Linked DNA regions of Homo sapiens. The protein of the gene in region 2 interacts with the protein of the main gene of each other region in a biochemical or structural test. Each region holds a gene or a part of one and is shown on either strand. Other genes may lie near its edges.

Region 1 (3,734 bases), on a different chromosome or scaffold from region 2:
CAGAGACATTTCGGGTTCAGTTTAAGACTACCACAATAGAGTGAACATAAAGTGAGTCACACAAATTTTTTTGGTTTCCCAATGCATATGAAAGTTATGTTTACACTACACTATACTAAGAGTGCAATAGTATGAAGTCTTTAAAAATGTACTTAATGTTAAAATACTGCTAAAAAATGCTAATGATCATCTGAGTCTTTAGAAAGTTGTCATCTTTTTGCTGATAGGGGGATCTTCCCTCAATATTAATGGCTGACTGATTAGGTTGGTGATTGCTAAACGTGGGGGTGGCTATGGCAATTTCTCTCTTTTTTTTTTTTTTTCTGAGACAGAGTCTCACTCTATCCCTCAGACTGGAGTGCAGTGGCACGATCTGGGCTCACTGCAATCTCCGCCTGCCGGATTGAAGCAATTCTCCTGCCTCAGTCTCCCGAGTAGCTGGGATTACAGGCGCCTGGCTCATTTTTGTATTTTTGGTAGAGATGGGGTTTCACCATGTTGGTCAGGCTGGTCTCAAACTCCTGACCTTAGGCAATCCGCCCACCTCGGCCTCCCAAAGTGCTGGGATTACAGCCGTGAGCCAACGCGCCCGGCCAGGCAATTTCTTAAAATAAGACAACCATGAAGTCTGCCACATTGATTGACCTTTTCACAAAAGATTTCTCTGTAGCATGTGATAGCATGTTACCAATGGCAGAACTTCTTTCAAAACTGGAGTCAATCCTTGCCAACTCTGCGGCTGCTTTATCAACTATGTTTATGGAATATTCTAAATCATTTGTTCTTATTTAAACAATGTTCACAGCATCTTCACCAAAAGTAGATTCCATCTCAAGAAACCACTTTCTCTGCTCATCCAGAAGAAACAATTCCTCATCCATTAAGTTTTATCATGTGTTTACAGCAATTCAGTCATAACTTCAACCTCCACTTCTAATTCTAGTTCTCTTATTTCTACCACATCTGCAGTTACTTCCTCTACTAAAGTCTTGAACCCCTCAAAGTCATCCAGGAGGGTTGGAATCAACTTCTTCCAAACTCCTGTTCATGTTGATATTTTGACCTCCTCCCACAAACTATGAATGTTCCTAATGGCATCTAGAATGCTGAATCCTTTCCAAAAGTTTTTCAATTGACTTTGCCCACATCTATCAGAGGAATCGTAATTTATGAAAGCTATAGTTTTATGAAATGTGTTTCTTAAATAGTAAGAGTTGAGAGTTGCAATTACTCCTTGATCCATGGGCTACAGAATGGATATTGTGTTAGCAGGCATGAAAATAACATTTATCTCCTTGTATATCTCCATCAGAGCTTTTGGGTGACCAAATGTATTGTCAATAAGCAGTATATTTTGAAAAGAATCTTTTTTTTTTCTCAGCAGTTCTCTACAGTGGACTTAAAATATTCAGTAAATCATGTTATAACAGATGTACTGTCATCCAGGCTTTCTAGTTCCATTTATTCAACATACGCAGAGTAGCATAATTCTTAAGTATTCTTGGATTTTCTGAATGGTAAATGGAAATTGGCTTCAACTTAAAATTACCAGCTGCATTAGCCGCTAGCAAGAGAGTCAGCCTGTCCTTTGAAGCCAGGCATTGACTTCTCTCTAGCTATGAAAGCTCTAGATGGCATCTTCTTCCAACAGAAGGCTGTTTCGTTTACATGGAAAATCTGTTTAGTGTAGCCACCTTCATCAATTATCTTAGCTAGATCTTCTGCATAACTTGCTGCATCTTCTCCATCAATCAGCACTTACTGCTTCACGCTGCACTTTTATGTTGTGGAGATGGTTTCTTTTCTTAAACATCACGAACCAACCTCTGCCAGCTTCCAACTTTTCTTCTGCAGCTTCCTCACTTCTCTCAGCCTTCGGAGAACTGAAGAGAGTGAGGGCCTTGCTCTTTGATTAGGTTTTGCCTTAAGGGAATATTGTGGCTGGTTCAATCTTCTATCCAGAGCACTAAAACTTTTTCCACATCATCAGTAAGGCTGTTTCACTTTCTTATTATTTGTCTGTTCACTAGAGTAGCACTTTTAATTTCCTTCAAGAACTTTTCCTCTGCATTCACAACTTGGCTAACTGCTTGGCACAAGAGGCATAACTCTTGGCCTATGTCAGCTTTCAACAGCCTTCCTCACTAAGCTTCATCATTTCTAGCTTTTGATTTAAAGTGAGAAATGTTGAACTTTCCTTTTCACTAGAATACTTAGAGGCCATTGTAGGGTTAACTGGCTTAATTTTAGTATTGTCCCATCTTAGGGTATAGGGATGCCCAAGGAGACGGAGAGAGATGGATAAGTAGCTGGTCAGTGGGGCAGTCAGAACAAACACAGCTTTTTTTATTATGTTTGCTGTCTTTTATGGATGTGGTTCATGGCACCCCAAAACAATTACAATAGTAACATCAAAGGTCACTGATCACAGATCATCATAACAGATATAATAATGAAAAAGTTTGAAGTATTGTGAGAATTACCAAAATGTGACACAATGACACGAAGTGAGCACACAATGTTGAAAAAATGGCACTGAAAGGCTTCCTTGAGACAGGGTTGCCATAGACTTTCAATTTGTAAAGAACTGATTATCTACAAAGCACAATAATAAAGCTCAATAAAATAAGGTATGCCTGTATTTCACTGGTTCATCTGTATCACTGATTTATAAAAGTATCTATCCAGACACACTCTTTGTGCAGTACTGAGGACAAAAACCTTTTCATTTGCAGGATGTTTGGTATTATAAGAAGTCAGTTTCCAGCACTAGCACATCTACACTAAGTTACTGTTCCTTCCCTAGACTCTTAGTTAGTGGGGCTGAATCAGTCATTTTGACTTAGAGTTTTAGAACTCAATTTCACATCTAATTCTATAGAATCTGGCATTAAAAAATCAAAATTTCCCTAACTCCCCAAAATAGAAATTATGAGATGGTGAAAAAACAAAAGCCATTAGGTCTTGCTAAGATCTGGTGACAAAGTACTTCAGTTAGACTCAAAAGACCTACATTTTCATCAGTTTTCCCACTCAGAGTGTGTCCTTACTACACAAAACTGTGCTCTGGCCTAAAACAATATAGATTCAAATTTCTAAGGAAAATCATCTCCAATTAAAATCACATATAACTCCTCACTTCTATATTGAAGTCAAGAGATTATGTTGTATTTTAAAGATCCCCTATAGCCCAGGCACGGTGGCTCACATCTGTAATCCCAGCACTTTGGGAGGCTGAGGCGGGTGGATCACCTGAGGTCAGGAGTTTGAGACCAGCCCGGCCAACACGGCAAAATCCCGTCTCTACTAAAAATACAAAAATTAGGTGGGCATGGTGGTGTGCACCTGTAATCCCAGCTACTCGGGAGGCTGAGGCAAGAGAATTGCTTGAACCCAGGAGGCAGAGGTTTCAGAGAGCCAAGATTGCACCACTGCACTCCAGCCTGGGTGACGTCTCCAAAAAAACAAAAAAAAAAAGTTCCCCTACAGATATGAGATTATGGGTACATTTTTCTTTGATTTCCATAATGATTATTGCGTAACCATAACAATATTAAACTTTTAAAAAATCCTCCCATTTCAGCAGGAGACAACTTTGGGAAATAACAGAAATATTCTATAACCTGATTTGGTGGTAGTCACACAAGTATATACATTTGTTAAAATTTATCCAAGAAACGCCTTAAATGGGTACATTTTATTGTATGTAAATTATATCTCAATAATGTTAATAT
Region 2 (2,705 bases):
GGGAGATTCTGAGAGTTTCCCCTCAAAGCACACAAAATTTAGATTCCTCTCTGAATTTTTTTCTTAAAAGATGGTTCGGTCCATAGTTTTTACCAGATCCGTAAATGGATCTATTTCTCAAAAGTGTTGAAGATCATCTATCCTTAACACCTTGTAACTACTACTCTTACAATGGGAAAGAAGGGTCAGGAAATGGGAGTCTCATGACATAATAGACACAGCACAGGGCCTATTACTGAGGATGTGAACATTTTATGACCTCTTTTCCAGGAAAGAGAATTAACAAAAGGGAGGGAAGGATTTTTGAAGTTTGGGTAAGAATCTATAGCTCCTTTCAACTCTCTCAATTTCCCACTGCTCTATCATCTCTCAAACAGGCGGGTAACTGGAAATAAAAGAATGGCTCTGGAAGGTGAACTCTATCCCTTGAAAATTGATTGAGAATCTGCAAGCAAATCACTTAATCTGTTTTGCAGTCTCTGAAGCTAAGATTGCCTTGGTTCTATGAGTAGAGCCAAGCAGAGCAGTGGCATGAACTAAAGAATAAACAATATTCAGTTTGTACTTTCTTTCCCAGAGTTCACTGGCACAGGAGGGATTAAAGACTCAGTATGAGTATTTTTCTAAAGTCACCCTACACCCTGATGTTTCTCATAGCATGTCTCTGGATCATTAATGTGTTTCCAAGCAAATAGTTTCATATGGAGCGTTTATTTACCCTTATTATTAAGATGCGTGTGTTTCACTGGAAGCATTAGCTTTGAGGCCTATCAAGCACATGATAGAAACAGGCATGCAAAAGGAAGGAGTATTCTGTCCAGGGAGCATGAGCAGGCAAGCTCACCATTGGAAATAGTGATGAAATAACAGGGAAATACAACTGAAAAACACACTCAAAAATGTATTACATAAAATAATTTACTTCTCATTCAGCGTGACCTTCCAGACCTATTAGTAAGACAGCAGTCTGTGAGTTCAGATACAATCTGAAAGTCATGACAATTATAATAGGGCAAGACCAATAAAGTTACACATTTGAAGTCAACTAGAGACAAAATTGTGGAACTGTGTATAACAGAAAATGACACTGATGAGGAACTCCAGGGATATTAAGGGCAAGATTGCCAGAGAGACAAGAAGGGTACAATTAGAAAACCTGCATCTTTAATACAGTGAGATTTGTATGCATACACTCTGGTGTCTTCATTTTGCAGCCCATTATATTGGCTTAAAAGCCAGAAAGGTGCTCATGCATGTAATTTATACTGGAGCAACGAATGCAGTGTATGTGGACGCGTGTGTGTGCACTTTGAAAGGCAGTAGTTTTAGAAGAATGAGAAGAAAATTACTTCCTGGGCATTCATTAATAATTCAGGTGATATCCTGTACCTCCATTTATAAAACAATATAATAATAATAACACGTACAAAATAACATCATAAATAACATAAATGAGAAGTTTTCAAGTATTTCAATGTGCCTTGAAAAGTTTCAAACAGTAATTCTCACAATTGGTTAGACAATCATTTTTTTTTTCTTTTCTTTTCCTCTCATTTAGTCTCAGAGCCTAAAAAGAAATGCCTCCAGTCTCTGTTAGCCCCGATGTTTGGAATGAAATTAACAAGATTCTACCTTAAAAGAGAAAACTTATGTGGGCTTTTCAAATTGTGAAAATTTGTTCCCTCTTATAAAATATAATCTTTCCCCTGCTGCTGGTTTATAAATATAGGCATATAGCCCAGAGCCATTATAAAGAAAAAACAACCAACCACAATAAACTAAGGAGCCTCATCTGATGGCTAAGGTTCTCAGGAAAAAATGAGAAGAGCACCTTGATCAGGAAAGGAAAAAAGGATAGAGGATAAAAACAGTAACCTTTAACTTCTATGCCCTCACTCAGCCAGTAACTTACGGCAGGTGTTGCTGGCAAGGCCTTAGCTGTATTTCTTCATTAAGTTGAACATCCTGTCTGCCAACTCCATACCAACCCAGCTGCTAATAAGCATGCCCTGAGCACCCAGGAAAAGAAGGGAAGGCTGGCAGCTTAGGAGCTCAAAAGTGCCATCAGAGAAAACCAGCTCAAGGGAGCTAAGGTATTTGCTCCTTAGAATAGTGCTCAAGGTGGAGGCTGTCAGTGGTCAAATCAAGCATGAAGTTCCTTGGATGCTTCTCCAGCAAGATCCATGGAATTTTACAAAACCAACTTTCCACAGGTTAGCATTTCTTTCTTAGCCTACATGGCAGTTAGTTCATTTTGCCCTGTTCAAATGTAGTATGAAAGAACAGAGATCAAAACACCCATGTAAGTACATACACATACTCTAGTTATGAGCACCTAGGGTCTTTCCCATCACTCTTGCAAAAGTGTGTGTGTGTGTGTGTGTGTGTGTGTATACATACACTCACACATACATATGTATACACAGACATCTATATACAGAAATAATGTATATGTGTGTCTAATGTATATATAATATATACACATAGACATACACACAAGCACATATCATAGCTCAACCTCATCTAAACATCTAGAGTCTGGAGAACGTGCTGGCCAACAGAATACATGTGCATGTGGATGTCATGTGACATGCACTAACCAACCATCCCGAGGTAAAACTGTTGGGAGGAGGAAACTGCCAACAATCTTTGAAAATCCAGACCTACCAGGCCATTATTTAGATATTTGCTCCCATGGAACCCTC
Region 3 (3,500 bases), on a different chromosome or scaffold from region 2:
TCCAACCTCAAACCCTCGGTGCCAGCCTTCAGAGGCGTGGGGTGGGGGATTTGCATGTGTTCCAGACAGAAGGAGATGACAGACGCCAGGCTGTGACCCCATAGCCTATGGGCCCCGCTGTCAGGAGTGTTGGGGCTTGTCTCCAGTGACCCTGTGGGCCATGCTCGGTGCCTGGCGGGCTGCAGCCCAGAAGGGGACCACGCAGTGGACCTGCAGGCTCAGGGCAATCACCAGCAACTGTACAACCACCAGCTTGGCGCTGCTGTCCCAGAAACAGCTCCAGAGCGCTGCACACGCATCACCCACCCCACTGCCAACAGCCCCCCACAGGCAGGTACTATTATTATCTCCCTTTTATGGAAAATAGTAACTGAGCCAGAAAGGGTGCTGCCTAAATTCAGCAGCAAGCCAGTGAGTAGCAGAGCCAGGACTAGACCCAGAGGAAGGCTGCACTCTCCCAGGGGAATGTCCCCTCACTGAGGCCCTAGGCTGAATGTGACGCAAGACAGAAGGTAGGAGCCTGGTCTGGCATTTGGCAAAGGAGCCCAGAGCCACGACTGTCACTCACCAGCATGCCTCATCCCCATTGCCCTTCCTGGCCCATCAGCCCCACACACTGCTCCCCAGCACCCCCAACCCCACGCAACTCTCCTGCAGCATCCTGGGCCCTCCCCACCTCTCCCTCAGCATCCCCGGCCCCATGCTGCTTCAGCAGCATCTGACGCCAGTGCCCCAGGGATGGCTGTCAGGCTAAGACTGCTATTTCTGTTGCCTGTACATTCTTGCTTGGCTGCCTCCTGGTTTTTTTAGGGTTTGCTTAAATTTGCTATGGCCTGATGGCCTCTGTGACTCCACCAAGTTTATGGAAGAGGCACATTCTGCACGGCTCTGTGTGATCAGGTTGCATACACAGGCTCTGCCACACTGGCATCATGAGGCATTTGCCTTGGCAATACAGAATTGGTGGAGTGCCGGCACGGCCTGTCCATGATGGAAACCTCTAACCACAACAGCTGGCTGGACCCCAGAGCCATTGTGGGCACCCGAGGCCCAGTGCTCAGAGGGCTGGCCTATCCTGCGGCCGTCTCCTCAGCGCTGCCCCCTGCCCGGGGGGCCCAGGCCACTCACCGTGGTTTCGTCTTCGTGGAGCACCTGGTCATAGCCGCTGAGCGCGACACAGAAAATGATGGCCGTGACGTCCTCGAAGCAATGGATCCACTTCTTGCGTTCAGATCGCTGGCCTCCGACGTCAAACAGCCTGTAGGAGGCAGGGAGCTGGTAGGCGCAGGGTCCAGGCAGGTGAGGGCTGCCTGGGGATTAAGCTGTGAGCACGCTGAGAGGCAGAGGATGGGGGCCATGGTGCTCAGAGCCTTGCTAAAAGCCCTCACTAGAAGACCTTGTCACTCCAGGTGATGACAGACAGCTGGATCACTGCCATCCCCAGGCACTACCCCTGGAGTCTGTCCTGGGACTGGCTGTGCTCACAGATCATGACTCAAAGACCTGCCCTTGCATCTGAGGAGCATTTTACTAAGAGGGCGCACCTGAGCCACCCCCAGGAAGTGCCTCTGAGAGTCCTCCTCGCATGAGGACCCTCCTCTCAGTCTATTCCTTCCTGGGTTTGCTCTGGGCAAACTCCAAACCAGCCTGGGAGGGAGGCAGGCAGGAGATGTCACCTGTTATGTGGATGGCAGAAGTGAGCCACCCATGGGCTTAGGACATGCCCAAGCTGGCGAGAGTCCAGCTGTGGTGGAGCTGGGTCTGGCTGTGGACAAAGCTGGCGCTCTCACCTCTGCCCAGTACGGCCCCTTTCTGGCAGATCAGAGCCTGGCCTCTTCCCCCTCTCAGACTCTACTCCCGAGGGGGCACAAAAATTCTGGAAGAGACTGTGGGCAGGTGGGACTTACGTCCTGGAAGTAAAAGGTCAGTCTCCCACCCCAATCCCCAGAGCGAGGAGTCCTGTAGCCTCCTAGATCTGGGATGCCTGCTGACACACAGCCTGCCAGAGGGGGACAGGGAAGGATCTCTGGTCCCACCGGACACAACGGAGTGACTGCAGGCAGAGATTAGTGTGGGCTCAGAGCAAGGAATGGGTCTGGTTCTCATTCCATCAATCAGGGGATCCTCCCCTGGATCCCACCTCCCCATCTGAAATGCAGGGGCGTTGGCAGATGGCCTCTGTGGCCCCTCCAGAATGCTTATTCTCAGACCCCGCCTTGCTGGGCTGGGTTGAGCTGAGATCCCCATCCTGTGCTCCCAGTGGGGGAGCAGGAGAGACCAAGGAGCCTGGGAAGGCAAGAGAGGCCCCTCAGGGCTGCTCTGCCCAAGGTTTTGCTCCCCAGATCTGCGGAGGCCTAGGGGTTCCTGGGCCCAGAGCCTCGGCCCCTCAGTCTGAACAGGAGCGGGCAGGAGTTGGGGACATGGGAGGCAGGGAATATTAGAATCCAGCTCTCCCAGCAGGGGTCCCTGCCCTCCCCTTCTCTGCTGGCCTCTCTTCCCCACAGGACGGAGCAGGCCTCAGTGCACGCATGTTACTGCAGGTGGGGACACAGCGCTGCAGCAGGACCCTGGGAACCAGCTCACCCGTCAGGCCCCTGCTCTGAGGCCCCAGAGCCCCTGGGTTCTAGCTGTGCTCTGTGCCTGGGAAAAGCCCTGCTCTTGTCAGGCCTCAGCTTCCCAAGCGTACTAGGAGAGGGTGGGTCAGCTCTCTCTGCTCCTTCCAGCTCTGGGATTACTTGGGTCCTCAGGGTCTCACAGAGGTAGCTTGGGCTTACCCAGCCCCACTCTTGGCTCCTCCCCCCAAGGTGACCTTGGAAGGGCCCCCTGGTAGCCCACCTCCTCCTCCTCCTTGGAAGTCACCTCAGGGACAGGCTGCCCCTCCTTGTCCAAATCCTCCCTGTTCCTCACAGCCCCACTCTGGGAATCTTCTTCCAGAAAGCCTCCCTGCTCACTCCAGCCCCTAACCTTGGCAGAAACACAGACAGGTTCCTTCTAGTATCTAGCTGCCTGCCCCAGCCCGCAGGTTCCCTGGGGCAGGATGATGTTTGGGCGCTGTAAACGCAATGCGCTGAGAGGCTGGGCATGTCCCATCTTAGCCCTCGCCAGGGCCTGGGGGCCTCTCTGGGCCTCACCTGAAGTGGAGGTTCTTGAATGTGAAGTGGGTTTCTACGATGCCAGTGGTTTTGACCCTGGTTCGGAGGATGTCCTGCTCGGTGGGCTGGTAGTCGGCGGCCCCAATCCGATCCAGGCTGTCCAGGTAGCTGAGGATGGCAACAAACAGGGGACTATGGACCAAATGCCTGGACACTGTTCGGGACTGGCCAGGCCACCCATCTTCAGAGTCCAGTCTCGGTCAGGGCCCCTCCAGGTCACTGTGGAAAAGACATCACCTCCATTCCAGGCCATAGGGAGTGGGGGCGACTGAGGAAGTGGGTCTTAGGGGTCTTGGCCTCACGCACTCATTCACAGCCAAAAGGGCTACGCATGCAGCTCCCGGGACA

What was found.
Region 1: the proteins of RGS4 (region 2) and UBR1 interact in a test that uses a peptide from one of them, tested with the Homo sapiens proteins (one study listed by BioGRID).
Region 3: the proteins of RGS4 (region 2) and GNAO1 form a complex in vitro, tested with the Homo sapiens proteins (2 studies listed by BioGRID).

Annotation. Positions count from the first base shown.
Region 1 is NC_000015.10:43,095,867-43,099,600, forward strand, and holds part of UBR1 (E3 ubiquitin-protein ligase UBR1), read right to left. Parts: intron 1-3,734. UniProt on the Homo sapiens protein: E3 ubiquitin-protein ligase which is a component of the N-end rule pathway. Recognizes and binds proteins bearing specific N-terminal residues that are destabilizing according to the N-end rule, leading to their ubiquitination and subsequent degradation.
Region 2 is NC_000001.11:163,074,790-163,077,494, reverse strand, and holds the end of RGS4 (regulator of G-protein signaling 4), read right to left. Parts: 3' UTR 693-2,705; downstream 1-692. UniProt on the Homo sapiens protein: Inhibits signal transduction by increasing the GTPase activity of G protein alpha subunits thereby driving them into their inactive GDP-bound form. Activity on G(z)-alpha is inhibited by phosphorylation of the G-protein.
Region 3 is NC_000016.10:56,334,489-56,337,988, reverse strand, and holds part of GNAO1 (guanine nucleotide-binding protein G(o) subunit alpha), read right to left. Parts: intron 3,261-3,500; coding exon 3,132-3,260; intron 1,259-3,131; coding exon 1,129-1,258; intron 1-1,128. UniProt on the Homo sapiens protein: Guanine nucleotide-binding proteins (G proteins) function as transducers downstream of G protein-coupled receptors (GPCRs) in numerous signaling cascades.